Regions from separate parts of the Homo sapiens genome. Here region 1 is linked to region 2. The links come from fine-mapping of genetic effects on gene expression. A gene starts in region 2. The other region holds a variant in brackets. All regions are shown on one strand. Distances are between the middles of the regions.

Region 1 (2,903 bases), 74 kb before region 2:
ACATCTGGAGTGCAGAACAGCAGAGGCTTCAGCCCACCCGGTCCAGCGCTCACTCTGAGCTATCACTGTGTTAGGAGCTTGGTCTTCAGTGTTTCACCGAGTCTTCCCAACACCCCCGTGATGTAGATCTTTTTGACCTTGGTTTACAGAGGAGGAAACTGAGGCTGAAAGAGGTTGAGAACTTGCCCAAAGTCACCAGCTAGACGTGTGGGAGCAGGGGTTTGAACTCAGACTTTCTGACACCGAAATCCAATGTATCCCCATCATTCCACATGCTCTTATCAGCTGTCAGGGAGCTTGACTATGGTCCTGCCCTGCCTCTGAGTGAGGGGCACCCTTAGCAGATGAGGTGCTGCAGGCTCTTGTGCCATGACACAGGGCCTGGTGTCTGGGCTGTGAGGGTAGCCTGGAGTGCCTGGAACTGCAGATCCAGTGAGAGGTGAGAAGTGTGGCAGAGAGCAGCCTCGTGACAGCTTTTGCTCATTTCTATTTTCTTCTCTCTATAGAAGTTCTTAATTTACAAGGTCCCCCAGGCCCACCCGGCCCACGCGGGCCACCAGGTGAGTATCTTGGAGACCTTTGGAAGGTGGGGAGTTTGGGGGACAGGAGATTCAATGCACTTAGTGAGGAAGCCAAGATCCTCAGGGGTGGCATCAGCTCCCTGAGCTCAGCATGGCCTCTTCCTTGCTCTCTTCTGCAGGGCCTTCCATTCCAGGCCCACCAGGACCCCGAGGCCCACCAGGTGAGAGCCGAGCTTACCACTGGGAGGTGGGAGGGGGAGGTGAGAGGTGGGTAGCAATGGGACCCTGAGCCCAGGGCCCTCTGGGCTGGCTTATAGGAAAGAGCTTCCCTGCTGCCTCCTCCTGAGCAGAGGGTTCCTGGCTCCCCTCTTGGCACTAATAAGTCTTGGGGGTTCTCTTTCCTAGGGGAGGGTTTGCCAGGCCCACCAGGCCCACCAGGATCGTTCCTGTCCAACTCAGGTAATGTCAGGGAGTCAAGTCGCACCTGTTCTCCACCTCAGCCCTTGTCCTGCCACAGACTGTGGCCGTAGCCTTGTGGTCACAACCTACTCACCAGGCTTCCTGCTCCTGACTTCCATGGGGATATGTTTATATAATCTTCCTGCTTGCTGCACATGGAGGGAATAACCATGTCAACCCAACCACCCTGGTAGTCTGGCCTGAGGGAGGGAGCCAGCTCTGCCCTTGGGGAGCTTCTGGCCTAACCAGGGAGACCTGGTTCCTATCCTTGGGGAGCCCAGGTCTGATAAAGTAGGCAGGATACATGCGCGTGAAGTAAGTGCCGACCGTACAACATAGAAACTTGTGGAAATAACTTTAAAGCAAACATTAGGCCAGAACCTGTTCCTAGTGGAAAATCCATCCACCCATCCATTTATCCATCCATCTACCCATCCACCTATCCATCCATCCATCCATCCACCTATCCATCCATCCATCCATCCATCCATCCA[C/TCCAC]CCACCCGCCCATTCATCCACCCACCCATTCATCCATCCATCCACCCATCCAACTATTTGACAAGTATTGATTGAGCATCTATGTTGTCAGGTGCTGTGCAAAGTGCTGCTTCTTCACAAACATCAGTGTCCATACTCAAACTATTTCCTTCCTCTGCAGAAACCTTCCTCTCCGGCCCCCCAGGCCCACCTGGCCCCCCAGGTCCCAAGGGAGACCAAGGTGAGAACAGTGTATCAGGGAACCCAGAAGCCAGTATGTGTCCTCTGTTTACCTGCTGGTTGCCAGGAGGGTTTGGATGAAGCTGAATGAGCTGGGGCATTTTTGCATCCTTCTGCCTTATCCCATTAGGAACTCAGCAGCCTGGAGCAAAGGTAGAGGGGGAGGCACAATAGTCAGAAACTCTACAAAGGATAGCCACCCAACATTGGCCTAGTGAGAGGAGAGGCACAAGGAACCCCAAGTTCTATATCTGCTCTAGCATTGGAGCCCCTATCCCCTCCTCCATGGGCCCATTGAAACCACAACACCTGGTTGGTACCTGTCTCATAGCTCTCTGCCTTTTTCCCTCAGGTCCCCCAGGCCCCAGAGGACACCAAGGTACAGTAGAGCCGGCATCAAACAAAACCTGGGGTAGGGGTGGGGATGGCAAAAGCTCACCTCCCAAGAGCTTTGAGCTTGATAGAAAGGCACCTGGTGCAAATAAGCAAGAGTAGAGCAGTGTTTCTCTAGGAATGGTTGAGTGTGTGCATGGGTGTAGTGCAAGTGTGCGTGTGCGTGTGTGTGTGTGTGTGTGTGTGTGTGTGGCATCTCTAGGTACTGCCCAAAGGGCAACGCAGCCCCAGCAATCATGGATCTTGGGGAGGCTCTACAGGGCTGTTAGTGGGTGAGAAAAGTGAGGCTGACTGTCCCTCCCTTGGTGTGTTCCTCAGGCGAGCAAGGCCTCCCAGGTTTCTCAACCTCAGGTAAGGGCTGAACCCCGCCCCATTCTGGCTCTGGCCAGAGCCTCTCCAAACCCTGGCTGACTGCACTGTGTGTGTTGTTGGCTTCCAGGGTCCAGTTCTTTCGGACTCAACCTTCAGGGACCACCAGGCCCACCTGGCCCCCAGGGACCCAAAGGTGACAAAGGTCAGTGAGGGAGCAGTGAGAAGGTGGTGAGGAGTAGGGGTGAGCCTGGTGCCCAGAGCCCAGAGCCTGAAGAGATGGCAGCAAGTACTCATCAGTGTAAAGTCTTGGGAGAGAGAAGAGGCTGGAGGAAGGAAAGGCCAGAGGGTGGAAGGGACAAGGACATGGTGATATAGCCTCTGTACAAGGGAGCTGTGGTATTATTACAAAAAGGAGGCCAAGAGACATGGGACGATTGTTGAGACACACACTAATAAGTGTGGTTTGGCTTAACCAGGGAAGGCTTCCTGGAGGAGGTGAGGCAAA
Region 2 (2,903 bases):
CAAGAAGAGACTGCAAGTAGCAATCACTTTGATCCCAACTAGTTCTGTATTAGCTCTAGATACAACCAAATATATATACTGGACCCTAAAAACAGAACTGTTGGAGTACAAGCATGCACGCGAATGCAGTCAGTAGACAAATCCACTGCAAAGTGCAATGAGTTTCTCATTCTAAAATACTTGAAGGGCACAACCAGACCCCTCCTATAAATTAAAGAACACTCTCATTTCCTTTGAAGTTTGAAAGAGTAGACTTTATAACCCTGTCTCCTTTTCCAATCGCTCTTTAAACTCCATCCAGGCCCCATTTTGTTCCACCGTAAACCCGACTTCTTAGCTACTCCTTGGATGATCAGCCAAGTAAAGTTGCATCGAACCGTAACAGTCAAAAGAAGGACAGGATAAGGACCAGGGGAGCAGAAGTCCTCCCGCCACTCCAGGCCAGTGGCTGTTTTACCTTCGCAGTACAACTTCCCGTTTTCCCCCTCTTACCTTGTACACTTTCCCAAAGGCTCCGTCGCCCAGTTCTCCTATAATCTCCCAAAAGTCTTCGGGGTTCAGGTCCCTCTTCACGTGTTCGTACTGCTTCTTCTTCTTCTCGCTCCCCAACTTGAAGATCTTACGGAAATTGAAGAAGGACATTTTTCCTCCCAACACAGAGTTCCTTGCACTTAAGGACTAAAAACAATAAAAGGCAAAGTTTCTCTTCCCTGCTCTCCCGCGCGAGCCCGGCTGGCGGCGGCGGGCGCGGCGTCCCTCGGCCCCCGCAGCTCCGGCCGGGCGGTCCCGGGAGAAGGCGGGGCGGCGACCCGGGCTCCGGCCCGCGGTGGGGGTGCTGCGCGAGCGGCCCCTCCGCCGAGCCCGGCCCGCGAGCCGCGCGGTGGGCGCCTCGCCTCCGGCCCACCCTCCGGGAGCGGCACCTGCCCGCAAGCTCGCTCCCACCCGGCCTGATCCGACGGGTCCGAGCGGTCAGGACTCCCGCGGCGGCGGCTTAGGCCCGTGTCACGGCGAGTCTCCAGGGGCGGCGGCCACTCTGGGAGAGAGAAGCGGCCGGCGGCCTCGGAGGCGGGCAGTCGAGAAGCCGAGCCCTCCCGCCTCGGGCCGCGAGCCTAGGGTCTCCTCCGCCGCCGTCCGCTCCCGCGGCGCAAGGCCCGCGCGTCCCCTCGGGTCTGGGGCGCCGCCGCCGCCGCCTGTCTCCCTCCCCAGCCCACACAGCCTCGGCCTGGAGCGCGCGCCGACGCCGACTCCGTAGCGCGCCCGCGCGCTTTCCCGGCTGCGCGCCCGCCCGGTCACGCGCCCTGCTCACCGCGCGCTCGCGTGGGGGCGTCCCCTCTGGCCCCGCGCACGCGCGCTACGTCCCTCAGACTGGCTGCCCCCGAGGGTTCGCGTGAGCGGAGCACGGGGCTCGGGGTGCGGGGGGCTGGTGTGATGGACGCATTTGTTCTTCGGTCCCTGACGATTGTTTCTCATTTGCCCTCCAAGCCCCAAATCCTGTCAGTCCACGGCCTTGATGGAGCGGCCCCCGTGGGACGACCCTGTTGATTGTGCTAGCGGATGTTGTCTCCATTCTGGATCTGGGAAAAACTGTGGAGTGAAAGCCGGACCTGTTAGGGTTGGGACCTGAAAGCGGACTTTTTCGCTCTCAGACGGGCCCCAGGTACAGTGAGAGGGGAGTTTGTGTGGTGGTTGTGAGCTTGAGCTTTGGAGAGAGAGATCTGTGACCTTGGGCAGGTGACCTCTCCGAGCCTCGGTTTCCTCGCCGTAAAATGAAGATCCTAATAGTCCCTACCAGAAGGTTGTGAATGAGACAATAGATGGAAGCCCTTTGCGCGGCCCCTGCACCCGTAAACGCTCAATCTTAGTTCTTACTCTTGTTGTTTTAAGTGTGCAGGCAAGATAGACACAGATACATAAAAACTGTTTAAGACCACTTCTCTTTTTTTTCTTTCTTTCTTTTTTTTTTTTTTTTTTTTTTTTTGAGACGGAGTCTCGATCTGTCGCCCAGGCTGGAGTGCAGTGGCGCGAACTAGGCTCACCGCAAGCTCCGCCTCCCGGCTTCACGCTATTCTCCTGCCTCAGCCTCCCGAGTAGCTGGGACTACAGGCGCCCGCCACCACGCCCCGCTAATTTTTTTGTATTTTTAGTAGAGACGGGGTTTCACCGTGTTAGCCAGGATGGTCTCGATCTCCTGACCTCGTGATCCGCCCGCCTCGGCCTCCCAAAGTACTGGCGTGAGCCACCGCGCCGGGCCCCCACTTCTCAACTGATGACTGCGACACTCCCTTGAGGGTAAAACTAACTTCTGGCCACCTCCACAACTGTAAACCTGGTGTCACTCTTGGTGACTCCACCTCAGCTAAGGCCCCCACTTCCTGATCTGCCTCCAGCCCCCTTGGGCAGCACTCCCTGGTGGGGCAGTGTGGACGTTGGCTGGAATCCGTCAGGTGGTGACCTACCTTCCCCTCCTCCACCAGACGGGAGCTCTTTCAGGCCAGTGGTTTGTTGTTCATCAAGATATCCAAGTACCCGGCAACATTCCTGGCATATAATAGGAAGGCAGATCTGGTGAATGAATGAATGAATGGCGGTATCTGGAGCAGAGACAATGTATGTATATATTGCTATTTATATAATGTCTGCCCCCCCAGTCATTTTGCCCTTCAGCCCCAAAATGGCATAGCAAAACCCCCCTTCCAGTAAGACGCTTAAGATGATTCAATTCCTTGAGATCCTTCTATTTTTTTAAGTGTTATTGCAATATATTGATATACAATAAACTGTACATATTTAAAGTGTGCATTTGGTTTTTTTGCTAGTACTTGTTTGCTTTTTTTTAAAATTATACTTTAAGTTCTGGGATACACATGCAGAACGTGCAGGTTTGTTACATAGGTATACACGTG

Direction of the effects. Alleles are on the strand shown, and positions count from the first base shown. SD is a standard deviation of normalised expression in the study named.
For the expression in regulatory T cells of the gene that starts at base 1,248 in region 2, TCCAC is the high allele of the variant in region 1 and C is the other (large effect, 0.85 SD a copy in Bossini-Castillo 2019).

The links. PIP is the estimated chance that this variant, and not a neighbour inherited with it, causes the effect. A credible set is the group of variants that fine-mapping cannot tell apart.
Region 1: its variant is the best candidate, but not a certain one, in a credible set for the expression of SLK in regulatory T cells (Bossini-Castillo 2019, PIP 0.74).

The regions. Positions count from the first base shown.
Region 1 is chr10:104,039,142-104,042,044 of GRCh38, reverse strand. It overlaps COL17A1 (collagen type XVII alpha 1 chain), which reads left to right. Exons shown (of 56, transcript NM_000494.4): 37 at 507-560; 38 at 701-742; 39 at 927-980; 40 at 1,635-1,694; 41 at 2,046-2,072; 42 at 2,405-2,437; 43 at 2,526-2,600. Among named protein-coding and RNA genes, the nearest start is that of MIR936, 7.6 kb to the left of the region's middle. The variant C/TCCAC (reference allele first, on the strand shown) is at 1,475.
Region 2 is chr10:103,965,485-103,968,387 of GRCh38, reverse strand. It overlaps SLK (STE20 like kinase), which reads right to left and starts at 1,248. Exons shown (of 19, transcript NM_014720.4): 1 at 493-1,248. The coding sequence starts at 642. It overlaps LOC102724351 (a long non-coding RNA gene), which reads left to right and starts at 1,343. Exons shown (of 5, transcript XR_007062282.1): 1 at 1,343-2,607. RefSeq lists silencers at 727-826, 837-886, 927-1,386.